Linked DNA regions of Homo sapiens. The protein of the gene in region 3 purifies or fractionates together with the protein of the main gene of each other region. This does not show direct contact. Each region holds a gene or a part of one and is shown on either strand. Other genes may lie near its edges.

Evidence for each region.
Region 1: the proteins of NUDT19 (region 3) and GUK1 fractionate together in Homo sapiens (co-fractionation; one large-scale study listed by BioGRID). This does not show direct contact.
Region 2: the proteins of NUDT19 (region 3) and MYDGF fractionate together in Homo sapiens (co-fractionation; one large-scale study listed by BioGRID). This does not show direct contact.
Region 4: the proteins of NUDT19 (region 3) and GIMAP8 fractionate together in Homo sapiens (co-fractionation; one large-scale study listed by BioGRID). This does not show direct contact.
Region 5: the proteins of NUDT19 (region 3) and PPIL1 fractionate together in Homo sapiens (co-fractionation; one large-scale study listed by BioGRID). This does not show direct contact.
Region 6: the proteins of NUDT19 (region 3) and LACTB2 fractionate together in Homo sapiens (co-fractionation; one large-scale study listed by BioGRID). This does not show direct contact.
Region 7: the proteins of NUDT19 (region 3) and RIDA fractionate together in Homo sapiens (co-fractionation; one large-scale study listed by BioGRID). This does not show direct contact.

Annotation. Positions count from the first base shown.
Region 1 is NC_000001.11:228,142,505-228,146,417, reverse strand, and holds part of GUK1 (guanylate kinase), read right to left. Parts: intron 1,723-3,913; exon of another isoform or gene 1,666-1,722; intron 908-1,665; coding exon 794-907; intron 393-793; coding exon 351-392; intron 1-350. UniProt on the Homo sapiens protein: Catalyzes the phosphorylation of GMP to GDP. Essential enzyme for recycling GMP and indirectly, cyclic GMP (cGMP). Involved in the cGMP metabolism in photoreceptors. It may also have a role in the survival and growth progression of some tumors.
Region 2 is NC_000019.10:4,660,112-4,664,438, forward strand, and holds part of MYDGF (myeloid-derived growth factor precursor), read right to left. Parts: intron 1,968-4,327; coding exon of another isoform or gene 1,610-1,967; exon of another isoform or gene 1,595-1,609; intron 640-1,594; coding exon 558-639; intron 1-557. UniProt on the Homo sapiens protein: Bone marrow-derived monocyte and paracrine-acting protein that promotes cardiac myocyte survival and adaptive angiogenesis for cardiac protection and/or repair after myocardial infarction (MI).
Region 3 is NC_000019.10:32,708,598-32,712,160, reverse strand, and holds part of NUDT19 (acyl-coenzyme A diphosphatase NUDT19 precursor), read right to left. Parts: intron 2,977-3,563; coding exon 2,769-2,976; intron 410-2,768; coding exon 204-409; 3' UTR 1-203. UniProt on the Homo sapiens protein: Fatty acyl-coenzyme A (CoA) diphosphatase that hydrolyzes fatty acyl-CoA to yield acyl-4'-phosphopantetheine and adenosine 3',5'-bisphosphate.
Region 4 is NC_000007.14:150,460,004-150,464,330, reverse strand, and holds part of GIMAP8 (GTPase IMAP family member 8), read right to left. Parts: intron 1-4,327.
Region 5 is NC_000006.12:36,867,773-36,872,099, reverse strand, and holds part of PPIL1 (peptidyl-prolyl cis-trans isomerase-like 1), read left to right. Parts: intron 1-132; exon of another isoform or gene 133-227; coding exon 228-382; intron 383-4,327. UniProt on the Homo sapiens protein: Involved in pre-mRNA splicing as component of the spliceosome. PPIases accelerate the folding of proteins. Catalyzes the cis-trans isomerization of proline imidic peptide bonds in oligopeptides. Catalyzes prolyl peptide bond isomerization in CDC40/PRP17.
Region 6 is NC_000008.11:70,637,915-70,642,241, forward strand, and holds part of LACTB2 (endoribonuclease LACTB2), read right to left. Parts: intron 3,137-4,327; coding exon 2,988-3,136; intron 716-2,987; coding exon 634-715; intron 1-633.
Region 7 is NC_000008.11:98,103,927-98,107,417, forward strand, and holds part of RIDA (2-iminobutanoate/2-iminopropanoate deaminase), read right to left. Parts: intron 2,401-3,491; coding exon 2,346-2,400; intron 2,081-2,345; coding exon 2,012-2,080; intron 619-2,011; coding exon 563-618; intron 1-562. UniProt on the Homo sapiens protein: Catalyzes the hydrolytic deamination of enamine/imine intermediates that form during the course of normal metabolism. May facilitate the release of ammonia from these potentially toxic reactive metabolites, reducing their impact on cellular components.

The DNA.
Region 1 (3,913 bases), on a different chromosome or scaffold from region 3:
GGCAGGCAGAGTAGCCCTTTTTACCAGGACTCCAGAAGACAGCTCAAAAGTGCTGATAAGTGCCGAGTCCAGGACAGGGCTGGGGACAGCAGCACTGTGGCCGCCTCCAAGGTGGGAGGAAGACAGCCCCAGGCCTTGGCCGGCCTCTCACACTGTACCCAAGGAAGGCGACACCACGCTGTGGCGCTGACACCCTGATTGAGTTCACCGGCCCTTGGAGGCAAGGACCCATCTCACAGATTAGGGATTGATGGGGGCAGGAGACGGGCAGCACAGCCAACACAGCTGCAGGGCCCAGCAGCCCTGCCCACACTGGGGGTGCTCCAGCCATAGGGCCCCACCCCACTCACCTTTGCCGTTCTCCTCGCCGGGCCTCGGGTTCCTCGTGGTATCTAGCAGAGAGACCTGTCACCCATCGGGGGCTGCTCGGAGCCCAATGCCCCACCCAGCGTTTCCCTTGCAGTCCCGACAGCACTTGAGCCCCAGGATGCAGGCAGCCAGTGAAGCACACCACTGGGAAGGCGCAGGAGCCTACAAGGCGAGGGTTCTCCCAGAAAGAAACACTGTGGCCCAGTTATCAGTACTCAACAGACCCAGGGAAGGGAGACACAGGCACGCAGGACAGCAGGAGTGTGATAACCTCAGGTTCTGTGTGGGGGGGAGTGTGCAAGAGTTCGGACAGTCTGCAGGGTGGGTGTGCCTGTTGGGTTTGGGCTCCTGGCCTGCTCACGGTGCTAGGACTACTCAGCAGCCTTGAGGTCTACGCACCCCTCCACGAGAGCCCTGGACTCACGGGACACGCTGAAGCCAAAGATGCCGCTGTGCTCCTGGAGCAGCCTCTTCAGCAGGGTGCTCTTCCCAGCTCCCGAAGGCCCGCTCAGCACCACAGGCCTGGGGCCCGACATGCCTGGGGGTGAGAAGAGAGGCTGTGGATAGCAGTGCGGCCTCTAGTCCCCATCTGCTGAGCTGCCTCTGCCTTCCTGAATTCATGGCAGGAAAGGGCTGACCCAGGGATGGAGACATTGGCCTGAGAGTCTCCTGAGAGCCTGGGTGTTCTTCCCCCTGAGCTCTGCCACGTTGGAAGGGCCGGCATGCACAGGGCGGCCCTCAGACCAGGCTCTGGGCACACGGGAGACGAATGGAAGGCCGGCTTTACTGGGTTCTCAGCAGGGGAGCCCCCCAACTGAAACCCACTGACCCTGTCAGCCTCCCCAGGGGTCCCTAGCAAGCAATGCTGTCTACTCTGATGACACCCTACCTGGGAGCTGCCGTCCCCACCTGGTGGAGTCACCTCCAAGCCCTCTGGGAGCCTGCTCTGAGACCCCCACCCCACCCAGGAGTCCAGCCATTTGCTCCCATGCATGGTGCTGAGTGCTGGGCTGCTAGGTCTGGAATGGAAGTGTCCCTGTCCCCGCCTCTGTCCTCTGGTACCTTGCCCTGCAGATATGGTCTTGTAAAGATCTACTGAATCTACACCTATTCCAGGAACTTCTCATAGGACTTGGGACTCCTATCTGTGATGCTGGTAATGCCAGAGGGGGTTGGAGGCCTCCCTCCCAGCCCCCAAGGGAAAGGCAAACAGGATCCTAGCTTGGACACGTGGCAGGTGAGGGCCCGGGAGCTGGCCTTTGCCTGGTGGGAATCCTCCCCAAGAACAGGGCCTACCTGTTTGCTGAGGTGCAGCCTCTGTAGTCAGCCTGGGGTGGGTCTGTCTGCTGGACTGAGAGCTGGGGGTGCTGAGTCCCTAATCCCCACTACGCCTGCTTCTGGCCCCACCCTTCTAAGCCACGAATAAATCCCCAGGGGGCCTGGCCCTGGGCCCTTGCAGGGAAGCAGCCCCATCCACCTGCTCTGCGGCTGTGCAGGAAGGAAAAGACAGCTCCAGCTCTTGCCCCAAGACCTGCACCTGCCCTGCCCTCCCAGTCCACATGAGCTGCACACACAGGGCCAGGGCAGCGTCTTCGAGTTGGGATGGGGAGCAGAGCTGAGGAGTGGGGCCGTGCACTGCAGCTGTGTTCAGGGGCTGGGCTAGAGGGAAGCGGATGGACCCCTGGCCACACGCACACCTTGGACACAACTCAGGCGAGGCGTGAATGGCCTCCTCCTGTTTAGGGCACAGCCGCCTGTGGGCAGACGAGCAGACAGTGGGAAGGACCTGAGGATGCCCTCCTAATCCCCAATTTAGGCCACCGAGGTAATCTCACAAATGCACCACGGCTGCAACTCCATCATGCACAGCGACACCCACCACACACATGCCACTCCCAGGCACAAAGGTATGCAGGATGTGTGCACAAACCTACCACAAACACACACACATGCATGCACACACAAACACACACACAAATGCACGCACACCAAGCAAATGCACACACACCACACATGTGTACCTGCAAAGGTACACATGCACACGCATACATGTCATTGATCACAAACACACCGGACCCCCAGTTAAAAAGACTCAAGAGGAAGGGAACTGCAGGACACCCACCCAGAAGTCCATGTGCTCTCCATAAGGGATAGACTCCTCCCTCCTTACTGCCTCTTCTGGGCTTTTTGTCACAAGCACACATCGTTTTCATCTCACCATGCACCCCATGCCCTCCTGGCTCTCCCACCCGCAGAATTTGCCCCTGCGCTTAGCTCGGGCCTCCCCACTAACCTGGCTCCTGCTGCTCACCCAGCCCTGCCACCTCCTCTACGTGCCAGCCAACCATCAGCACGCACTGCAGTGGCCAGGGTTCTTTATCCATTCAGCTTCTCCCAGCCAGCGAGCCCTGCAACCTCCACAGCCTGGTTCCCATAATGCACTAGCTAGGAGCCCCCCAGAGTCTCCCACAATCAATGAGCCATGCCACTTGTGTGAATTTCTGGCCCCTGCTTCTCGCCAGGGTGGAAGGGGTACAGTTCTCAGGACACATCCAGCAATTGCTACACACCTACTTGAAGCACTGAGATCACAGAAATTATGACTTGATGGTATTATGGTGACTTTTCTAATACGAAGGAGAAAAAGTAAAGCTAAATCATGTGCTTCGAAGGACCCGATATGGGAGAGCTACTCAAATGGTCCTGTGGGCTGGACCCCATGTGAGCTTCTGTCCTGTTGCTCCACTGAGCTGGCCCTTCTTAAGGTCACTCTGCCCTGCCAACCCACAACCAGCATGGCACTGGTGGGCCTGACAGGGCTGCCCCAAGGCCGGTCCTGCCCTGTTCCCCCCAGCCCCTGGCTCCAAGCTCTTCGGGTCTGAACCTAGATGCTACGTGACTATAAACCCACACAGAAGGAAACACAGTGGTGACCTCCACTGACCAGGCCTCCCCTCCTCCCTCCTGAGGGAGCGCTAAGCTAGTGAAGTGAAGCTGGGCCCACAGGCAGAAGACACCAGTTCGCCCAGCTGCTGCCAGGCAGGGGTCCAGGCTCCAGCCTTGCCAAGGGCGTCGTCTGCACAGCTGTGCCTACACTCGCCCAGCACAGGGCACAAGGCACACGTGGCACATCAATCGCCAAAAACTCTGGGAGTTTTTGCGTCCTCAGAAGGGGGAGAGCCACACCTTCTGAGGATCCCACCAAACTACCACAAGACCCTGGTCTCCATCCCCTCCTCGGCCCCAAACCCCATCCCCGATGCCCAGGAATTGGGGAGCTCGTGCCTCACTTCCAACTCCCAGGAATGGGGGGTGCTGGAGTCCCACCTCTGGCTCCTGGGTTGGGGATCTCCCCCTTTCCTCGCAAGCAGCAAGTGGCAGGTGTGTCTCTTCACCACAGGGCCCTGACAACGATCAGACACCAACAGATGCAACCCAGCACAGAGCAGACAGCAGACGCTGGTGGGCCCCAACCCCGCCTGTTTCCTCCACAGGTGTTGCCCCTGCACCACCCTTACCCCGCCAAGCCCAGGCTCCCAGGCCT
Region 2 (4,327 bases), about 28 Mb from region 3:
ACTAGAGATGGAGAGGAGACTTTTTTGTTTTTGAGCCAGGACCTCACTCTACTGTCCAGGCTGGAATGCAGCAGTGCAATCATAGCTCACTGCAGCTTCAAAGTCCTGGACTCAAGTGATCCTCCTGCTGCGGCCTCCTGAGTAGGTGGGACTATGGGTGCATGCCAACACGCCTGGCTATTTTTTTTTTACTTTTGGTAGATATAGGGTCTTGCTATGTTGCCTAGGCTGGAATCAAATTCCTGGCCTCCAGCAATCCTCCTGCCTCAGCCTCCCAAATTGCTGGGATTACTGGCGTGAACCGCCGCGCCTGGCCTGGAGAAGTCTTTTCTGGCATATACAAGAGAAGCCAGCAGCAACAGGTTACCAAACCCCCGTGCCCCTGGCCTGGGGGCGTCTGTGTGCCAGGTTCCTGCAAGTTACACACCCTACCTCTGCAGGATTCGCTGTCCCCTCTCCTCCCTGTCCCCATGGAGCCCTCTTGTGGCAGGACATCTCACAGCTGCCCCAGTGCACAGAAGCCACACCCGGAGCCTGCCCCACTCCAAGATACTCACGTAGGCCATGGCGTACTCAATCTCAGCGCCCCGCACCTCTGCCTTGAACTGTGTGAAGTACAGATAGGACTTCCCCTGGGGCCTGCAGAGGAAGAGGGGGCGAGGGAGTCAGGCCAGGCCTGCTGGGTCTGGGTCTGTGTGCCCTGGAAGGAGCCCCGCCAGGGACTCGGGCTGGGGTCAGCAGGTCTCGTGCCTGCTTCTCAACATGGACGCCATTCCCGAGCACGAGCACCTGCTGACTGGGAAGGATGGATGGGGCCCTCTCAACAGCAGACCCTCTTTCTTTTGTGCCAGAATTTTTTTTTTTTTTTTTTTTTGGAGACGAGTCTCACTCTGTTGCCCAGGCTGGATGGCAATGGCACAATCTCACTCACTGCAGCCTCTGCCTCCTGGGTTTAAGTGATTCTCCTGCCTTAGCCTCCCTTGTAGCTGGGAGTACAGGCACCCGCGACCACATCTGACTAATTTTGGTATTTTTAGTAAAAACATGGTTTCACCATGTTGGCCAGCCTGGCCTGAACCCCTGACCTCAAGTGATCCACTCGCCTCAGCCTCCCAGAGGGCTGTGATTAGAGGTGTGAGCCACTGTGCCTGGCCCCTTTGTGCCAGAATGTTCTTCCAGCTCATTCATAGACACGCCTCTCTCCCCTGTGGGCTGGGAGCTGCTCTGGGACAGGACCCCATGTCCATTCACTGCACATGGCTTCTTGGTTGCTGACAGCAATCCAGGTACTACGACGGGGGCTGGGGCTGGGCAATGAGAGGCCAGTAAAGGCTTCTCAGAGGGCATTGACTAGGAAGTACAGGAGTTAACTTAAGAAGTGGGGAGGATCATCTGCCCAGGTCTCTAGAAGGCTGCTAACGGAGGCTTCTAAGGAACTGGAGTGGCAGAAGGTGTCGGAAGGTGACAGCAGGGGATGATGGCATCTCTGGTGTGAAGAGAGTGTGATGGGGATGGAGGGGCAGCAGGGGGGCCATTTCTGTGGAAGCCCTGGCTGGGGTTCTATGTGCATGGGTGGGGCGGGGGTATCCAGGGAGCCCTAGATTCTTCTTTAAGCCCTAGCACTGCCAACAGCCCTGGTCAGGGAGGGTCCAGTCACTGTCTGAGATGAGGAGGCCTGGGGTGGCAGGTCTCCGGGGCTGAGCATGCCCCTGGGGAGCTTTTGTGGGGGTTGGACAGGAGGATTCAGGCTCAAGGTGAGCCCAGCCACCATCCCAACTGCTCCAGACCTGCACCTGCCCAGATGCCCTCTGGGGAGCTGGCACTCAGGGGTCCATGCAGGGCAGTGGCCTGCAGACAGACGATGGCGACCGTGGGCTTCCCCAAGACTACAGGGCGGCCTCTGCAGGGTCTCTCTGGGCTGATGGGGCCTATCTCCTCTCAATGACCCTCCTGATGCCTCCTGGGGCCTTGGCCTGCCTGTGATGCAGCCAGTTCCATGGAGTGGGTGAGAATCTCCCCAGAAACACCTGCTGTTTGTAAAGCGCCCCGCAGGGCACGGCGGGACAACACCCACACGAGGCAGCAAATCACACCCTGTCCTTCAGTTAAACGTCGCCACTCCCTGATCTCTGCCTCCCATTTGTCAACGTGCTTTAACCTGACCGCAGTGGTGGAGCTATAGCTTGGACTTCTCCCTCCAAAGTGTCTGCACAAAATAAAGGCTCAAGAAATACCCACTGTTTGGGCTGAGACATTCTGGGCCAAGGATCAGGGAAGAAGGGACAAGATTCCTGAAGCCCCCGACCCCCTCCCCACCGGGGGGCCTGACGGCTTCCTTCCCTTCATGACCTTGCCCAGATCGAGCTGGGATCTAGGCAGTGGGGTTACGAGAATGAGTGGGGCGAGTGGAGCCGGGATAAGCCCATAAACCATGAGCCTGACAGAGGATGGCGGCAGGGGCAGAATCGGGCGGTGTCTGGGGAGACTTGGGGAGGGGCTGTGGACCCAGATGCATGTGTGTTCGGGCAGGTGGAAGAGAGTGCACAGCTTTTGTCTGATTCCCAGATGTCTGCACCCCAAGAAGGCTATGAGCCATCAGGCTGGTCCTTCAGAGAACATGCTGGTAAAGACCTGCCTGAGGGGAAACAGCTGGGGCCCCTTCTGGTGGGACACATTCCCCGGGAGATAGCATCATCCAAACCTCCACAGCCACTACCCCACAGACTCCCACACCTGCCACCTGCCTAGCTCGTCCCCAGCCCAGACCTGCACCAGCTCCGCCAGTTCCACCAGGACTCTGCCCAGCACCTTCCTCCTCCTCCTACCCCAGCTAGCTGATTCCACAGCCTCCAATCTGTGCCCTCCCCTCCTCCCTGTCCTCATTTTACACAGCCTCCAGTCTGTGCCTTCCCCTCCCACTCCGTCCTCATTCTACAGCCTCCAATCTACTCTCCCCACCCCACTCCATCCTCATTCTACAGCCTCCGATCTACATTCCCCACCCACCTCATCCTCATTCTACAGCCTCCAATCTACCCTCCCCACCCGTCCTGTCCTCATTCTACACAGCCTCCAATCTACCCTCCCCACCCGTCCTGTCCTCATTCTACACAGCCTCCAATCTACCCTCCCCACCCACCCCATCCTCATTCTACAGCCTCCAATCTGTGCCCTCTCCACCCATCCCATCCTCATTCTACACAGCCTCCAATCTACGCTCCCATCCACCCCATCCTCATTCTACAGCATCCAATCTACTCTCCCCACCTACCCCATCCTCATTCTACACAGCCTCCAATCTGTGCCCTCTCCACCCACCCCATCCTCATTCTACACAGCCTCCAATCTACCCTCCCCACCCCATCCTCATTCTACAGCCTCCAACCTGTGCACTCTCCACCCACCCCATCCTCATTCTACACAGCCTCCAATCTATCCTCCCCACCCACCCCACCCTCATTCTACACAGCCTCCAATCTACCCTCCCCACCCACCCCATCCTCATTCTACAGCCTCCAATCTACCCTCCCCACCTCATCCTCATTCTACAGCCTCCAGTATACCCTCCCCACCCACCCTGTCCTCATTCTACACAGTCTCCAATCTGTGCTCTCCCCACCCACCCCATCCTCATTCTACAAAGCCTCCAATCTACCCTCCCCACCCACCCCATCCTCATTCTACACAGCCTCCAATCTGTGCCCTCTCCACCCACCCCATCCTCATTCTGCACAGGCTTCAATCTGCGCCCCACCCCCAACCCCCGACTCCATCCTGGTTGGTGCCTGGAGGGGCTCCCTGCCTCAGCCTGCCTCCTTCAGCCGGGGGGATCTGAGCTCCACATGTTCCTGCAGGGAGCCCTCTGGAATAGGACTCAGCCAGGAAAAGAAATGAGGCTGACACGGGCCTCAGCATGGATGAGCCTTGAGGACGTCACGTTCAGTGAGAGACGCCAGACACCAAAGGCCACACAGGGAAGGTTTGACCCCATTTCTATGCAATGTCCAGGACACGCCCATCCACAGAGACAGGAGGGGGATGCGTGGCTGCCATGTGCTGGGAAGGAGAATGACTCTGATGGGAACAGAGTTTATTTTCAGGGGATGAAAATGTTCTGGAAGCAGAGGTCTGGCTGCACACCTCTGAGAAAGTACTCCATGCAGCTGAATTGTGAGCTTAAAATGCTGTGCTTTATGGAATTTTATCTCAGTTTTTAAACATTGCCAAAAAGGGTCAGGCATGGTGGCACACGCCTGTAATCCCAGCTACTCAGGAGGCTGAGGGAGGAGAATCGCTTGAACCCAGGAGGCGGAGGCTGCAGTGAGCC
Region 3 (3,563 bases):
AGAGCTTCCAGTGAGCCTATATCATGCCACTGCACTCCAGCCTGGGCGACAGATTGAGACTCTGTCTCGAAAAAAATAAAGAAATACTGAATTGCAGTAACTTTTATAGGCACAAACTTCCTTAAGTTTCAAGCAAATGAAAGTCAACCCTCATTATTCATGAGGACTTCAAGTAGGCCATTTTACAAACAAGCTTAAGCACCCTACAAATGGCTTTTTCTTACTACAGAGTTCTTAGGATAAACGTGTTTATACTTTGGCTGAACAGTCACGTGGATATCATAAAGGTGGCGATGGTATGTCACTATCCGGTGAAACTGCTTGCCTTCCTTCATGATTTCCTCAGTCTTTTTTTCAGTAGACATAAGATTTTCCAAAAAGTCTGAATCTTCTAAATATAGCTCATCACCTGAAAAAGGAAAAAATCTGATTTTATTTTTAAATACAAAATTATTTTTCACCATGGCAGAAAGTATAAAATTTTAATTCCATCGAGTATTATTTTATAAATCACTCCAATATACTAATGAAATACAAATCAGTATTTTTATCTATTTCATATGTTTGGAACTGAGATAGTTGTTAAATCAGTATTTATTTTGATCTATTTAATATGTTTGGAACTGAGATAGTTGTTAACTAATCTAATTCTATGAGCTTACCTCAATTTCTTTATTGTGTTTTTTTATCTGTTTTTTGAGATGGAGTCTCACTCTGTTGCCCAGGCTAGAGTGCAGTGGCGCGATCTCGGCTCATTGCAACCTCCACCTCTTGGGCTCAAGCAATTCTCATGCCTCAGCCTCCCGAGTAACTGGGATCACAGGTGTCTGCCACCACGCCTGGTTAATTTTTGTATTGTTAGTAGAGACAGGTTTCGCCATGTTTACCAGGCTGGTCTCAAACTCCTGACCTCAAATGATTCACCCACCTCGGCCTCCCAAAGTGCTGGGATTACAGGCGTGAACTACTGCGCCTGTCCTCTTTCTTGTGTTTTTAATATCCCCTTACAACACCCCAGCCAAGAGTTTTCTTTGGGCCCATAAACATCTGTGACTGGTATGTTTCCACTGTGAACTGTAACTATTATACCAGTTCATGACTCTCTTTATTCTATTCAATACTGATATTAAGATTGGCCTTGATATTCATATACTTTTGATGTTTCAAAGTGGGCTGTTCTTATCATCTTCAGGTTAATTTAGAGAAATTCCATCAAAACTGCTAAATTTTCCCACTGTAGGTTGAGTAATAAATCTTTTTTTTTTTTGAGATGGAGTTTCGCTCTTGTTGCCCAGGCTGGAGTGCAATGGCGCAATCTCAGCTCACCACAACCTCTGCCTCCTGGGTTCAAGTGATTCTCCTGCCTCAGCCTCCCAAGTAGCTGGGATTATAGGCATGCGCCCCCATGCCCAGCTAATTTTGTATTATTAGTAGAGACGGGATTTCTCCATGTTGGTCAGGCCGGTCTCGAACTCTCGCCCTTAGGTGATCCACCCGCCTCAGCCTCCCAAAGTGCTGAGATTACACGTGTGAGCCACCGCGCCCAGCCTTTTGTTTTGTTTTGTTTTTGACAGAGAGTGTCGCTCTGTCGCCCAGGTTAGAGTGCAGTGGCATGATCTTGGCTCACTGCAACCTCTACCTCCTGGGTTCAAGTGATTCTCCTGCCTCAGCCTCCTGAGCAGCTGGGATTACAGGTGTGTGCCACCATGCCTGGCTAATTTGTTTTTTTTTTTTTTTTTTGTATTTTCAGTTGAGATAGAGTTAACATTTTACTTTATTTTCTTCATAATTTCATAATTCATAATTTCAATTGAAATTATGTCCAACTGAAAAAAAAAAACAAAGTTGGCTGGGCACAGTGGCTCATGCCTATAATCCCAGAATTTGGGGAGGCTGAGGCGGGCGGATCACCTGAGGTCAGGAGTTCAAGACCAGCCTGGCCAACATGGTGAAACCCTGTCTCTACTAATAATACAAAAAAATTAGCCAGGCGTGGTGGCACATGCCTGTAATTCCAGCTACTCGGGAGGCTGAGGCAGAAGTATCGCTTGAACCCAGGAGGCAAAGGTTGCAGTGAGCCCAGATTGCACTCCAGCCTGGGTGACAAGAGCAAAACTCTGTCTCAAAAAAAAAGCTCCCTAATTCAAATTAGATGACAACTTACGAGTTCTCGTAATTCAAACTTAAAATGCAAAAAAGTGAGAAATCAGCCAGGCATGGTGGCTCATGACTGTAATCCCAGCACTTTGGGAGGCCAAGGCGGGTGGATCACAAGGTCAAGAGTTCAAGACCAGCCTGGCCAAGATGGTGAAACCCCGTATCTACTAAAAAAAAAATACAAAGATTAGCCGGGCACAGTGGTGGGCACCTGTAATCCCAGCTTCTTGGGAGGCTGAGGCAGAGAATTGCTTGAACCTGGGAGGTGGAGGTTGCAGTGAGCCAAGATTGTGCCACTGCACTCCAGCCTGGGTGACAGAGGGAAACTGTCTCAGAAAAAAAAAAAAAAAGTGAGAAATTATATGAGAAAGACCTTTGTCAATGTCTAGGAAATATATTAATATAAATGTATGTGTATGTATATGACATTATGCAGAATTTCTGGTTATAATAATATGGATATTTTATAGGCTTTGATCTTACTTAGCTAATACCCTGTAGATTACAAAACACAGACTGTAATTCCTGTCTCTACGTTGGGCAATACAGCCATGCAGCCCAGGGCACTGAATGTGAATACTAACAAAAGCACCGATGCTTCACTGGTTTACCTGGTAAAAGATGGACCATCCCATCAGCAGTTAACAAGATGATCGGCAGCCACCTTTCCAGTCCTTCTAATGCACGACCCAAACAAAATTTGTGCAAGTCAGAGAGAGAGGCAAAGTTTGCAAGTCTTCTCACTTCGTAGAACTGTGGGGGTGGCAACCAAATTTCTTTTGATAAGAAACTTTCAGTTGCCTCTGATGGAGATGACCACTGTGAAAGACAAAGGCAGGGTTTCTTAAGGTTTATGCCATAGACAATGTGAGACTTGAGACAGTCAGACCAGTACCTAAGGTAGAACTGAATGTGTAAAATGAATTCATTAATGCGCCCTGTGAGATCCCTCAAAGACAACATGAAAAGATTCAGTGAAGAAAGCTGGGTTGATCCTCTTAAGAGGTTGCTTATTAGGACACTGATCCTCAGAACTAGTAAATAAACCAGGGCAGACCCCTGAGGCTTGACCTGGGAGAGCTGTTCAGCATAAGAGGTGGGAGATGCAGAGAGGGTAAGGTGGTTCCGGTCCCTGCTGAAAGAAGAAAGACTCTGAAGGGTAAACTCATCACAGTAGATGGAGAATTTGGTGCCTGTTCATTCCTCTGGGAAATGGGTACTTGGCTAGATCCTGAGGATATAATGATGGACACCACAAAGCTCTCCTAGGCCCTATGGGGACTTCAGCAACCAAAATGCTTTGTGATGTGGTGATGTGTGCCACATGGTACAACGGCGGTGAAGCATCAGGAGCAACAGCAGCTTTCAGGAAGTCACCTGGCATGACTCAGCCTACAGTCAAGAGA
Region 4 (4,327 bases), on a different chromosome or scaffold from region 3:
TTAAGTAAGAATAACATAGTCCTTAAAATAAGTGGGAAAATATGCAAAATGATGATTGGAAAATGATCTGCCGTCTACAAAGAATCGTATCAATTTGTAGTGTTTTTATTACATGTAAATGAGCATTTTAGGTTCTTTTCCTTTTTATCATACTTATGTGTCCATCTGAAGCTAATGTAAACTCTGTATGAGGAAAGTTTACCCTAGAAACTACTCCAAATATTGAAAATAACAAGTAGTAGTAAAATAATTTACTTTATCCTGCCTATCACTGCTGCCATTGACACCTATACACACTGCCCAGGGGCCTAGGTTCCAGCCAGCTCAGCCCACTACTGCCACCACCAGCGCCCATGCATGCCACTTGGGGGTCTAAGGGCTGGCCCACCACTGCTACTGGCACTGCCAATGCTACATATATCATCCAGGGGCCCAAAGACTGGCCCACCAAACCTGTTGCTGTGGCCAACACACACCACCTGGGAGCCCAAATACTGGCCTACTCGGGTCCTCCACCTGCCACTATCAGTGTTTGTATATGCCACTCAGAGGACTGAGTACTGACCCACATAGCCCATAGTCACCAATACTGGTGCTCATGTGCATCACCCAGGGCCCAAGGGTGAGCCCACTTGGTATCTCTATCCCCAGGAAATCTTACCACAGCCTTCACTAACAACCACAGGCTAAACCACTGAGGAACTTGCAGACATCACTGACATTGATTACAGCCAAAGAAATCATATGAAGACTACACTACTGCACCTACCCAGAATCAAAGCCAAAGCACCCTACCCAATCAACACTAGAGATATGTGTACAGAAAAAAGTCTTTCCCTGTGAAAGCCAATGCATAAAATTGAAAGAAGCAACTGTTACACCAGATGCACATAGTGCAAAAACACAAGAAACATTAAAAAGCAAGGGAACATAGTATCTCCAAAGGAACTCAATAATTCTCTAGTAACAGATCCCAAAGAAAAGAAAATATTGGAATGCTTGAAGAGGAATTCAAAATAATGATCTTAAGGAACATCAACAATATAAAAGAGAACACAGATTGACAATACAAAGAAATCAGAAAAAACAATTCATGATCTGAATGAGAAATTCAATAAAGAGATAGATATTATAAAAAAAAGGAACCAAATGGAAATCCTGGACCTGAATAATTCCATGAACAAAATAAAAAAATATAACCAAGAGCTTCAAAAATAGACTAGATCAAGCAGAAGAAAGAATTTCTGAACTTGAAGGCAGGTCTTTTAAAATAATTCAGTCTGGATAAAAAAAACTTTTTTAAGAATAAAGAAAGCCTATATGACATATGGGACACCATAAAGTAAACAAATACTTGAATTTTGAGAGTTCCAGAAAGATACAAGATGGGAAAAGTCACAGAAAATCTATGTAATAAATAATAGCTGAAAACTTCCAAAGTATTGTGAGAGATGTAGACATTCAGACACAGGAAATTCAAGATTCTCAAATAGATTCAATCCAAAAACATCTTCTCTGAAACATATTGTAGTCAAATTGTCAAAAGTCAAAGACAAAGAAAGAATTCTAAAAACAGCAAGATAAAAGTCTCAAGTCACATATAAAGGAATCTCCATCAGACTAACACCATGTTTTATTAGCAGAAACCTTGCAGGTCAGGAGAGAATGGGATGATATATTCAAAGTACTGGAAAAAAAAATTTTTTGGCCAAGAATACTATACACAGCAACACTATCCTTCAGAAATGAGGAAGAAATAAAGCCTTTCCCATACAAACAAAAACTGAGGTAATCTATTACCACTGGACCAACCCTACAAGAAATGCTTAATGGGGTCCTACATGTGAAAGTGAAAGGACAGTATCTACCACCATGAAAATGCACAAAGTACAAAACTCATTGGTAGAGCAGATATACAAATGAGAATGAGAAAGGAATCAAATGTTATTACTATAGAAAACCACCAAATTTCAAGGATAAACAATAAGAGTAAAATAAAGGAACAATGTGTCAGGCCTCTGAGCTCAAGCTAAGCCATCATATCCCCTGTGACATGCACATATACATCCAGATGGCCTGAAGCAACTGAAGATCCACAAAAGAAGTGAAAATAGCCTTAACTGATGACATTCCACCATTGTGATTTGTTTCTGCCCCACCCTAATTAATCAATGTACTTTGTTATCTCCCCCACCCTTAAGAAGGTTCTTTATAATCTCCCCTACCCTTAAGAAGGTTCTTTGTAATTCTCCCCTCCCTTGAGAATGTACTTTGTGAGATCCACCCCCTGCCCACAAAACACTGCTCCTAACTCCACCGCCTATCCCAGAACCTATAAGAACTAATGATAATCCCACCACCCTTTGCTGACTCCTTTTTCGGACTCAGCCCACCTGCACCCAGGTGAAATAAACAGCCTTCTTGCTCACACAAAGCCTGTTGGTGGACTCTCTACACATGGACATGTGAGACAAAATGGATATACAAAACAATCCAAAAACAACACAATGACAGGAGTAAGTTCATCTATCAGTAACAACCTTAAATGTAAATGGATTAAATTCACCAATTTAAAGCAAAACAATGACAGGAGTAAGTTCATCTATCAGTAACAACCTTAAATGTAAATGGATTAAATTCACTAATTTAAAGGTATAGACTGGCTGAATGGAATATAAAACAAGACCTAACTATATGCTGCTTACAAGAAATTCACTTCCTCTGTAAAGCACATAGAATGAGAGTGAAGGGATTAAAAAAAACATATCGCACACAAACAGAAACCAAAAACATGCAGGAGTAGCTATACTTACATCAGACAAAATAGACTTTAAATAAAAAACATAAAGACACGAAGAAGGTTATTATATAATGATAGATCAACTGAGCAAGAGAGTATAATAACTATAAATGTATGTGCACCTAATACAGACAGGTAAAGCAAATATTATTAGGGCTAAAGAGAGAGCTAGACCCCAATACAATAATAGGTGGAGACTTTAATACCCCAGTTTCAACATTGGACACATAATCTAGATAGGAAATTAATGAAGAAACATAGGACTTAATCTACACCACAGATCATGTGGACTTAACAGATGTTTACAGAACATTTCCTCCAACAGCTACACAATGCACTTTCTTCTTATAAGCACATAGAGAATTTTCCAGGCTAGACCATCTGTTATGTCAGCATTATCCTGATATGGTTTGAGCATATAATTTATTAGCTCCAATGGTGCTTAGGTATCAGTAGCCAATATGGGATATTGTGTGGAGCCTTTGGCAGGCCCTTATAGATAACTCACAGTACAAACCCTAAAGATTTTGGAGCAAAGCCTTGCTATTGTCTATGAATAACTAGTCACCTTTTGAGAAACAGCTTTTGGCCTGCCGCTGGGCCTTAGTAGACACTGAACACTTAGCCATGGGCCACCAAGTTGACATGCAACCTGAGTATACAGTAAAGTCAGGTGTGCACGGAAGGACTCCATCATCCAATGGAAGTGGTATATATGAGATTGGGCCTAAGTAGGCCCTAAATGCACAAGTTACATGAAAAAGTAGCCCAAATGCCCATGATACCTACTCCTGCTATACTGCCTTCTCTCTCCCAATCTGCACTCATGACCTCATAGGGGAGTTTCCTACAATGAATTGACAGAGGAAGAGAAAACTCAGAGCTGGTTTACAGATAGTTCTGCACAATATGCAGGCACTACCCAAAGTGGACAGCTTCATCACTATAGCACCAATCTGGGACATTTCTGAAGGACAGTAGTCAAGGAAAATCCTCCCAATGGGCAGAACTTTAAGTAGTGTACCTGGTTGTTCATTCTGTTTAAAAGGAGATATGGCAAGTATAATTATATACCAATTCATAGGCTGTGGCCAATGGTTTGGCTGGATGGTCAAGGACCTAGAAGAAACATGATTAGAAAATTGGTAACAAGGAAGTCTTGGGAAGAAGTATGTGGGTAGACTTCTCAGAATGGGTGAAAAACATGAAGAAAACATGAAGACATTTAGTCCCATATGAATGCTTACCAAAGGGTGACTTCAGCAGAGGAAGATTTTATTAAAATAATCATCAAATGGATAAAATGACCCATTCTGTGGATCCCAGTCAGCCTCTTCCCCCAGCCACCCCTGACATCATCCAATATGCTGATGAACAAAGTGGCCATGATGGCAGAGGTGGAGATTATACATGGGCCCAGCAACATGGTCTTCCATTCACTAAGGCCAATCTGGCTATGGCCACCACTGAGTGCCCAGTCTACTAGCAGCAGAGGCCAATACCAAGTCCCTGATATGGCATCATTCC
Region 5 (4,327 bases), on a different chromosome or scaffold from region 3:
TGCTGAAAAGAAGTACCCAGAACACCTGCGTGTTTTACTCAAAAAAGATAATGGGTGTTTATGTTACTTGCATTGTGGTGTTTTCCTTTGCTGAGCATGAAATCCAGTGGTTATCACAATTTCATGACTTACAAGCTTGAAAATCAAGAGTCCTGGAGCAGTTCCATAATACTCCTGTCTGCCCTGACCTTTTTGTTTACTGGAGCTGTTGTCCTCTCCCTCTGCAGCATGGGAATCATTGTGCTGGAGCTGTACTGGAAGCATGCTCCAAAGACCTGTAAGAACTTTGCTGAGTTGGCTCGTCGAGGTTACTACAATGGCACAAAATTCCACAGAATTATCAAAGACTTCATGATCCAAGGAGGTGACCCAACAGGGACAGGTACAGTTAAGCCAACATTAGTTTATGTTTTCTTTTTTTTTTCTCCTTTTCGTCTTTTTTTCTAAAGCCAGCATTAGTTTCTGAAGTCTCTGTCGTAAATAGGTGATAAGGCAGCCAGAGCTCTCTTTTCCACTTACTAAGGTCTGTGTTGGTTGATTCTGGTGACAACGCCTGCCTTCCTCAAACACACATGTGTGGAATTGACCAGAAACCAACCTTTACTCCTAGGCTTGGTAGAGTTTTTCATAACTTACATGTACTGCTCACTAAGAACAAATAATATTTGTCTGAATTATAGTGATGCAAGTAGTCTGATCAATAAGAAGGAAAGACTTTATAATATTTTGAGAATAATAAAATCCTGGGTTCTTTTATCGATTCATTCATTTAACAAATACTGAGTACCTGTTTTGTGTCAGATACTTTTTTAAGCTCTAGGGAGATACCTATAAACAAAGAGACAGAATTATTGCTCTCAATAAAGCAGGAAAAGGGTGTGGGGATGGAATTTTAGTAGAAAAGTCAGGGAACTCCTCTCTGACATTATTGGAGAAGAGATCTGAATGAAGTAAGAAAGTGAACCTTGCAACTGTGGGGAGAACATTTTGGATGGAGGGAAGAGCAAACACAGAGGCCCTGAGGCAGGAACCTGTGCTGGAAATCATAAGATATGATACCTTATAGGGCATGGTAGAGACTGGGTTTTATTCTGAGTAAGATGTGATGTGAGTCATTGGAGAGTTTTGAGCAAAGGAAAGACATGATCTGATCTATGCTTTAAAAGGATCACTCTAGGCTGGGCACGGTGGCTCACGCCTGTAATCCCAGCACTTTGGGAGCCCGAGGCAGTTGGATCATTTGAGGTCAGGAGTTCAAGACCAGCCTGACCAACATGGTGAAACGCTCTGTCTACTAAAATACAAAAATTAGCCGGGCGGGTTGGTGGGCACCTGTAATCTCAGGTTCTTAGTCGGGAGGCTGAGGCAGAAGAATTGCTTGAACCCAGGAGATGGAGGTTGCAGTGAGCCAAGATCGCACCACTGCAGTCCAGCCTGGGTAACAGATTGAGACTCCCTCTCAAATAAATAAATAAATAAAAGGATCACTCTAGCTGCTGTTTAGAGAATAGATGTAGGGGCAAGATGTAAACACTATGTAAATAGTTGTTGTACTGTATTGTTTGGGGAGTAATGACAAGAAAAATAGTTCTATACATGTTCAGTACAGATGCTTCCCCCCAAGATGTTTTCAGTCGCGGTTAGTTGAACCCATGAATGTAGAACCCACATGTAGGGAGGGCCGACTATGCTCATGAGTAAGTAGTTGGATAGGAATATGGGGTTCAGGGAAAGACCTGGTATGGAGGTATTAATTTGGGAGTTACTGGCATTTAGATGGGGTTTATTAGTGAACTGGTGGAACCCTTACTCATTTCAAGGGCCCTTGCTTCTCAGTCTGCTTCTTCTCTGCTAATTTCTGCTCGTTTGCCTTTAAACAAGTTTGGTTTTCTCTATAGCAGAGTCTTTTCTCAGTCTTGTTCTTTTTTGTCATTCTTAATCGTCTCATGATTTATCATCTATGGTCAGAAGCATTCAGGTTTTTGGGTTTTTTTTTTTTTAATGTATATGGATGCATTTCAAAATACAGAATATATAAGAAAGCAGAGAAAAGGGGAAAAATCATTCATAAGCATAGCTCCTAAAGATTTCTAACCATCATTAACTAATCCCTAAATATCCCATCTTTCAGAAAGGAACAGTGTTAACTTTTGGTGCCCATCATGTCTGGTTTAAGGGATGACAGGATAAATGGAAGTAGTTTCAAAAAAATAGGATATATAAGCTATTGTTTTTAAAACAGAACATATTACATTTAATTTCATATATATAGAACAGAATATTTGACTTCCTACAGTGAAAGATGAGGCAATTAGTACTTAAATTTCTACCCATTCTTATTTTTCCCCGACCTTAATTTTTGTTGTTAGTTTTATTATTATCTGTTCTGCACTCATCATTCCTTCAGCTACAGTGTGGGTCCTACGTTTCAGTGTATTTAGTGTTCACAACTTGCTTCGCTTTTACCTTCGCAAGTGCTGGAGGGCAGGATTTCTTGTCTAGTGGTTTTTTAGTGTTTTTTTTTCAGAATGCTCAAGAATCACAATTGTCCAGTGGTTTTTTGTTACAAGAGCTGGAATGTGTTGTATTTTTAAGTTCATTCATGTTTCAGAATTTCTGCCTGTTACTTTTATACTTGAAAAGAGATAGCATGTTGGCATGCTCAGCCCCCTCACTGTGTGATGCACTGTGCCACTTTGGGACTTCACAGAGTCCCCACCAGCAAGAAGGCTCTCACCAAATGTGGCCACTTGACCTTGGACTTCTCAGCCTCCACAACTGTAAGAGATAAATTACTTTTTTAAAATAAATTTTTTAGGCCAGGCATGGTGGCTCACACCTGTAAGCCTAGCACTTTGGAGGCTGAGGCGGGAGGGTCACTTGAGTTCAGGAGTTCAAGACCAGCCTGGGCGACATAGTGAGACCCCGTCTCTACAAAAAATAAAAAATTAGCTGGGCATGGTCGCATATGCCTGTAATCCCAGCTACTGGGAGGCTGAGGTAGGAGGATCACTTGAACCTGGGAGGTTGAGACTGCAGTGAGCCATGATTGTGCCCACTGCACTCCAGCCTGAGCGACACAGTGAGACACTATCTCTAAATAAATAAATTAAAATAAAATAAAAATATTTAAAAGGAAGAAAAAAAGACCATAACTGGGTATAGCATTCTGAGATCTTTTTAGACATTTCTGATCAATTGCCTTCTGGTTTGGTTTTTTGTTGTTGTTTGTTTTTGTTGTTGTTGTTGTTGTTTTTGGAGACAGGATCTTGCTCTGTCACCTAGGCCCAGGCTCGAGTACAGTGATACAATCATGGCTCACTGCAATCTCCATCCCCTGGGCTCAAGCATTTCTCCTACCTCAGCCTCCCGAGTAGCTGAGACTACAGGCATTCACCAGCATGCCTCACTAATTTTTAAATTTTTTATAGAGTTGAGGTCTCACTGTTGCTGAGGCCGGTCTCAAACTCCTGGGCCTAAGTGATCCTCCTGCCTCGGCCTTCCAAAATGTTGGGATTACAGGCATGAGCCATCATGCCTGGCTGCCTTCTCATTTTTGAATATGGTTTTGGAGAATACTGAGGCCAGATTTACTCCTTCCTTTACATCAGGGTTAATTTTTTGATTTCTATTTCTGAATATTTTCTCTGTTATACTTACTGGATTTTCTATTTCAGGAAATATAGTTATTTGTTTCATCACCTTTGCCTTCCATATCTATCATATTTCTTTTGATTGTGTGATAGGATTTTTTTTTCTTTTTTCCCTGCATTCACTAAAATAATCTCAGACCTTTACTCTGTGCCTTACTCAATTTTCAGTCATTTTTATTCTGTTCTTTACTGCTCTAATTTATCTACTAGCTCATTACTGATGCCATTTGAATCTAAATTTGTTTCCTTCACTCTGCAATCTTTTCATCTTATTCTGTGGTGTATTATCTTGTCTTTGAGCTTTTGTTATATTATATTTTTACTTCTCTTGAATCATCCATAGCTTGAGATAGCCATGGAGAAGCCACTTTCTCCCAGGCTGAGTTCCTGGGTTTTCTTTTCCTTTCTCCCCTCCTCCTTTCTGTCCTTCTGTTGGTTGTGGTATGTTTGCCTAGTTTCCATGCCATTTGTTTTCATCTTATCCATGCTTGATGTCAACACCTACATTATCCCCACCTTTTACTTGCTCAGATACAGTGTAAGTGGAGTCTCCTTGTCATTCTCCCCACTTATGTGGAACTGGTTGTCTTCCCCACTTCAAATGTTAGGTTGCTTTCTCTCTATTCTATTCTAGCCTGAAGAGGTGTGGGAGAGAACTGGAGCTCAGCTCATGC
Region 6 (4,327 bases), on a different chromosome or scaffold from region 3:
AAATCAGAGAGTAAAAATTTAACAATAGATAAGTAAATGCACTGAATTTTAAGTTACCTTGTGGCTAGAAAAAGCATTCATTCTTAAAATAATTTTGTTGCTCAATATAAAGTTGGGTATTTTTGGTACATGTAAAAACATTGCTAAGGCTTCTACATCAAATTCAAGCTTAGAATTCTGGATTTTAAGGATTACATTTCTATAAAGATTATTAGTTTGACAAACTAACACTAGAAAATAATTACATAATTACTGCTTTGACATCTCTAAGTTTACTACCTTTACCACTGTTTAAAACCTTTGGCTGTTCCCAAATCTACCACATGTGAAATTCTTCGTGGTTTTTGGGTCTGGGAGAAGAAAAGTTATCTTCCTGCTACATGTCTTTGATTGCCATTCTGGTGGGTAAGGATTGGAATTCCAACTGAGATTCTAATTCCCCTGGGAGCTTTTGGTTCCAGCTTGTGGTCCACTGGCCCTGTGCTACTGACCTTCCTAGCGCCTGTCTCTCCAACTTAAAGTGATATTCATGGGAGAACTCTGATGGGTATTATTTTTCCTCAAAGGAAACTAAGGCATCTGTAAAAATATTTTAAATGCTGGTAATAGAAGAAAATTTGGAAGCATACTCACATATTTTTCCTTCTTTTTCTAGTTTTTTCAAATGAAGTAAGAGATTATGTTTAGCCATTTCATGTAAATTCTCAGGAGTATTCTAAAAGAAAAATGAAGGTGAAAAAAATTCCTTTTTTTTTAAAAAAAAGAACACAGTTAATTTTTTGAAAGCTTTGAAGAAAAGCAAAATGTAGCAAAAGTTTATCTTAAACACATTTTTTTTTTTTTTTGAGACAGAGTCTCACTCTGTCGCCAGGCTGGAATGCAGTGGTGCATCTCGGCTCACTGCAACCTCCGCCTCCCAGGTTCAAGCAATTCTCCTGCCTCAGCCTCCCGAGTAGCTGGGACTACAGGCGAGCACCACCACGCCCAGCTAATTTTTGTACTTTTAGTAGAGACGGGGTTTCACCATGTTGGTCAGAATGGTCTCGATCTCTTGACCTTGTGATCCACCTGCCTCGGCCTCCCAAAGTGCTGGGATTACAGACGTGAGCCACTGCGCCTGGCCTATCTTAAACACATTTTTAACTTGTTTGACATTTTTAACAATTTCACTTTGTATACATCTTGTTTTATATTCTATATATACTCCTATAGATAGAATAGGTTGTAAGCTCCATAAAGACAGTAGCAGTATCTTTTTTTTTGAGACAGAGTTTCACTCTTGTCACCTAGGCTGGAGTGCAATGGCGCGATCTCGGCTCACTGCAACCTCCACCTCCCAGGTTCAAACTATTCTCGTGCCTCAGCCTCCCGAGTAGCTAGGATTACAGGCGTGTGCCACCATGCCTCGCTAATTTTTGTATTTTTAGTAGAGATGGGGTTTCACCATGTTGGCCAGACTGGTCTCGAACTCCTGACCTCGGGTGATCCGCCCGCCTCGGCCTCCCAAAGTGCTGGGATTACAGGCGTGAGCCACCATGCCCGGCCTGGCAGCAGTATCTGTTTTGTTCATTACTGAATATTCAGTGTTTAGCATAATAATACATAGCAGAAACACATTAATATTTTATGAATGAATAAATGTAAAATTATTCTTAGAAAGTTTTCATGATGCTACAGACAGTTGGCCCTGTAATTTATTTATTAGGTTACAGGGTAATATCTTTGTATATTTTAATTTAAATTTAATTTTTTTAAAAAAGTTTTTGGGCCGGGCGCAGTGACTCATGCCTGTAATCCCAGCACTTTGGGAGGCTGAGGCGGGTGGATCACCTGAGGTCGGGAGTTCGAGACCAGTCTGACCAACATTGAGAAACACCATCTCTACTAAAAATACAAAATTAGCTGGGTATGGTGGCACATGCCTGTAATCCCAGCTACTCGGGAGGCTGAGGCAGGAGAATCGCGTGAACCCAGGAGGCAGAGGTTGTGGTGAGCCAAGATGGCGCCACTGCACTCCAGCCTGGGCAACAAGAGCAAAACTCCATCTCAAAAAAAAAAGTTTTTGAGATACAGTCTTGCACTGTCACCTAGGCTGGTGTGCAACGGTGCGATGTAGGCTCACTGCAGCCTTGACTTCCCAGGCTCATGTGATCCTCCCATCTCAACCACCCGAGCAGCTGGGATCACAGGCATGTTCCATGACACCTGGCTCATTTAAAAAATTTCTTGTAGAGATGAGGTCTCACTATGTTGCCCAAGCTTGTCTCGGACTCCTGGGCTGAAGCAAACCTCCCACTTAGCCTCCCAAAATACTGGGATTACAGGGGTGAGCCACCACGCCTGGCCACAAAAGCTTACATTTTTAACCTCTAAGCTATGCTGCCTACACAGCAGACATCTAATAAACATTTGCTGAAAAACTGAATTATACTGACTGCTATATAGTGCTGTCAATACAGTGATATTCTCAGAGGCCAGTGAGGTGTAAGGCTCTTTCCCTACATACTATTTTACTCATGTTCTTTGATTTTTTTTTTCTTTTTCTCCATTGTTTGGCATTGCTACTACTTCTCACTGCTTTGCTACTACTTCTCACTGTTAACATTCCAATATTTGTGTCTAGCAGGTCACCCCTCCTCTCTTGGTGCAGGCTGGGACACAAGATAATCAAGATGGCTAGAATAATGCAAAAATTATTACAAAATGTAATCATCAGGCTGTTGGTAGTTTCTCCTACATAGTTAGGCAGTTTCTCCTACATAGTTAAGTATATAAAGTTCAATGATGGCTCGAAATGGCTATCTTTGTTCTCTAAGGCCAGTTTTTGTTTAATTTTAGCACTGTAGAAAGTTTAGGCTGCTGGTCTCAAATCTAGAAAAGTGGCGTAACTTCTGATCTGGGATATAAGTTTATCATTTCTATAGTCTACTAAATAGATAATTCTAATAAATTTGTGGCTACATACAAATAAGAAAACTGAAAATTACCTTGTAAATAATTTTTACAAGCTCCATTACTGTAAATGATTTCTCAAAGTTCTCACGAAATAATGTAAGAATTTGCTGCTCTCGAATATTTCTGTGAGAAATGTATTGTTGAATTTTAGCTTCAGCATTATGAATTACTGGGCCATGTCCTGAATTAAAATAATTATAAGAGTTACTTCAGTCAGATAAAAAAATACTAAGTACAACAGAAGCTAACTCACTCTATTTAAAAATAATTCATATGATATATTGAAAAAGCATACTAAATGTCAAATATGAACTATTTGGAAAGCTATACAGGTGAAAGAGATTTAAAAATTATATACAATACCCCCCAATTAGAAAATTATAGCAAATACAATCTATAGAAAATATTGTGTACATTAAAAATATGGAATAGAAATTTAACAATAAAACACAGCAATAAAAATAGCAACTACAATAATAACAATAGGTAATGTTTATGGAGTGCTCACTATGTGCTAGGCACTGCCCTAAATGCTTAACATACATTATTCTTACAAGAATCCCATGAAGTAGGTACAATTATTACACATTTCTTATGGTAGAAACTGAGACATACGGAGGGTAAATAATCCGTCCACAGTTACATAGCTAAGAAGGGGTGGAGTTAGGATTCTGACAGGATCTCTTAACCACTCTGTGCTCTTGACCATTAGGCTAAGCTTATAAAATACTGCAAAAGGACAATGTAAAAAGCAGTTTCATGTACATGACCAAGCTCTATTAAAAATTCACAAGACCCACAGTAAAACTTTAAGAATCCTATGTATAGGCTTCTGTATGTCAGAAATTTTGACAACCCAGATTAAGTTATACTATAATTTACTTCCCCTTTAAGACAGTACACATTAATATTATATATTATATAAGTCTGCAAGAATGATGTTCTTAAATATTTGAGAACAAAATATCCAGAAGCAGGCTAACCTATTACGGGATCTGGTTAGACACAGACCTATCATTTATTTGCTGTGTGGCTAATAAATGAGGAAGTATCTGAATCTCTCTAAGCTGTTTCTTCTGCTGTGTGGTGAGGAAACCACTACCTACTTTACATGGGTTTTGGTGAGGATGACAACTGTAAAGGCCCCTGCACAAAACCTGATGGCTAGAAGACTTTAATATATGGTAGCTATGGCTACAGAGCATAATTTACATATAAACAACTGCTGTGCTAGTAAGCCAGTTCACTGGATTCACTAAAGCACTCTAGAATCTTTACTAGGTAGCCTCTCATTAGCTTAGCTTGAATGTGAATTCACTCAACGTCTGCCCTCTTCGCTTTAAAAATAGCTGTCTTTAGCAAAAACAAAGCA
Region 7 (3,491 bases), on a different chromosome or scaffold from region 3:
CGCGCCTGGCCTTTTCTCACAATTTAAGTATTTTGATTCTGATTCTATGTTCATGTGCTGTCTTAAAAGGTTTCTTAATTTTTTTTTCATGCATGTAATATGGGATATTTCCTTTCAGACTTTAAGTCCCTGGGGAAGCAGGGTCTATTTCTTTTCTTTTTTTTTTTTTTTTTAAGAGACAAGGTCACACTGTTACCCAGGCTGCAGCACAGTGGTTCGATTATAGCTCACTGCAGCCTTGAACTCCTGGGTTCAAGTGTTCCTCCCACCTCAGCCTACCAAGTAGCTGGGACTATAGGTGTGCACCACCACCATGCATGGCTAATTTTAAATTGTTTTTGTAGGGATGGCTGTCTTGCTATGTTGCCCAGGCTGGTCTAGAACTCCTGGCCTCAAGCGATCCTCCTGTGTTGGCCTCTCAAAGCACTGGGATTACAGGGGTAAGCCACCCTGCCCAGGCTACTTCTTTTAAGTTTCCTTTCACAGTGCTTAGTTTACTTATAGAAGGAAAACAATGTAGAAACTGAAAACTGTGTACATTAGTCATTTAAAGTGTACTTACTTTGGGTAAAGCAGCAACTTGGTAAGCAGCTCTAGCAGGAAAATTACTCTTGAAATCTGAATTTAAAAGAATTTCATTTTTTTAATAGAGAAGAGTTGAAAAAATAAAGATCAAGTGAAAATTTTTATTTTAGTTTTCAGATATTCTATTGTTATTCAATATCTACAATTAATAATCTGGCAAATATTTCATATACTAGTCAGTTCTTAGATATAAGCAACATTTATTTTTATTTTTTTGAAACAGAGTCTTGCTCTATCGCCCAAGGCTGGAGTGAAGTGATGCGATCTCAGCTTACTGCAACCTCTGTCTCCCATGTTCAAGAGATTCTCCTGCCTCAGCCTCCCGAGTAGCTGGGATTACAGGTGTGCACCACCATGCCTGGCTCATTTTTGTATTTTTAGTAGAGTCGGGGCTTCACCATGTTGGCCAGACTGGTCTCAAACTCCTAATGTCAAGTGATCCACCCACCTCAGCCTCTCAAAGTGCTGGGATTATAGGTGTGAGCCACTGCTCCTGGCCTTAAGCAACATTTTAAAAAAGAGGCTCACTATCAGATTTGTTTGATAAAATATTTTGCCATATGATTCCTATGATAGTTAATACTTTTTAAAATCTCTTAGCTTTCTGGCAAAAAAAAAAAAAAAAAAAAAAAAGAAATACATACCCTAACATTTTGATCTTGTTTGATGTGAATGGAGTTTTGTTTTTAAAGTGATATTTATAAACTATTTATCTAAATAGGGAACAAGTGCCCATCTCCAGAAATTTTGGCAAGTACTTCCTCTGCCAACTTTGGTCTTTTCTAATAATTTCTTCAGGAGAGAATAAGTAACGATGCTTTTTCCAAGTTATACCTTTGCCTCATCCCATTAGGTGTTGGGGACACCAATTTTCCCTACTATAACATCAATGTTAATAATAGCTAACATTTACTCAGTGCTTATAACACACCAGCATCTAAGTGCTTTACATGTTGTACTGACTCATTTAATCATTCCAACAACCCTATAAGTTAGGAGTATATTATCTCCATTTTGCATATGAGAAAACCAAGGCATAGAAATATTAAGTAACTAACTAATGAGTCTGAGAGAGCCAGGATAAAGATGGTGGCTGCACCATACAGCCACAGTAAATAAAATCTATGCATAAAAAACTTGTTAGGAGAGTTTAAAAAGCCTGAGAAGGATTTAATGAAATTAAGCTTTTGAAAAATGGATATGTAGGATTTCAGTATATTGTTTTAGGGAATGCAATAGAAATGTCTTAGAACTTTTTCATGGGGGGTATACAACATATTTCCAATCAGATTATTAATTCTTTTAAGATCTATGACCATTTCTTTAGCATCTCCTACCACTCTTAATTCATAATGCACATTCATTAATGTGACCAGATTTCTTTCTTTTTAAAAATGGAAAATAGGAATAAAGCCAAATTACTTACACTGTTTGTAGATTTCATTGACAGTATTGAAGTCATTTATGTCAGCCAGAAGAACAGTTGTTTTCACCACTAGAAGATATAAACATTGTCATTAGGTTTAGTTATTTGGTCTGACCCAAAACATTACTTAGAAAAAGAGTGTATGAATCTGAGACTGTCTTGATTAAAATGGGACTGAAATGGGACCAAAGAAGTGAAGTAGAACAGTTGCTATTTAAAACAACTTTTAAATAGCAACAAAGATATGGCACGGCATCTTACTGGATGCCATATATTTTTCAAAAAGACCAAAGAAATATCAAAAAGAAATGTGAAATAATATCAAATTGCTCACCGTTAGTGAAGTCACAGCCTGCAGCTTTCAGAATTTCACCCATGTTTTTAAGAGCCTGTGAACCAAGCCAAGAAAGGCCTAAGTCACTGATGTTAGATTTAAAGCTTTAATTAAATTCAATTAATCATCTTTTACTAATACCTCCTTAAATAGCCTATGTTGCAGAAAAATCCTCCCTACTCGCTTACAAGTGTGTTTCTTGGCTTTCCTTTAATAGAATGAGTCTTTCTGATATATGGTGAAAATGTTGTCTCCTTTTGTGCGTAAAAAGACTAGGTTGAAGTTCCTTCTTCAGTGCTAAAATGTGTTAATTGTTCAGCCAATGTCCACAGAAATAATTTCTGGTGTTCTTCATTCGATATCACGTCAAGGATAAGGATGAGCTAGTAAGCATTAAAACATATTTTCTTTTAAAGCAATATTTGACTTCAAAGGGTTCTTTTTCCTTTTTCTCAAAAAAACAATATTAGTAAATTATATAACAGTTGGAGACACTGGCTTCTGGAAAAACATTTATCTTTTTTTGGATTCACTCTTCCCACTTTGCTGGTCACAATGCAATATTTCATTATATTCTTGTGTCTTTTAAAATAATCTTCTAAATAGGTAATACATGGATATGGCAACAACAACAACAAAAAAACTCAAAAGCTATTAAAAAAGCATATACCGTGTAAAGATATCTCTCACCCCTCTCTCCCTCTCCCAAGTTTCCCTCCTCAGAGGTAACCACTGTTCCTAATTTATTGTATATCCTTCTAGGTACAGTCAATGCTTATGTTACATATTTTTAAACACACAAGCACACATGGTAGCATACTGTGCATGTTGTTCTGCATCTTGGTTTTATTACCATGGAACAATTTACCTCGGAGATCTTTCCACATTACTTTAGTTGTATTGATCTAGCATAATTTATTCAACCAGTTCTTTATGAGTGGATATTTAGGTTTTTAAAAATCTTTCAGCTAGGCCGGGTGTGGAGGCTCATGCCTGTAATCTCAGCACTTTGGGAGGCTGAGGTGGGTGGATCATGAGGTCAGGAGATCGAGACCATCCTGGCTAGCACGGTAAAACCCCGTCTCTACTAAAAATACAAAAAATAAGCCAGGTGTGGTGGCGTGTGCCTGTAGTCCCAGTTACTTG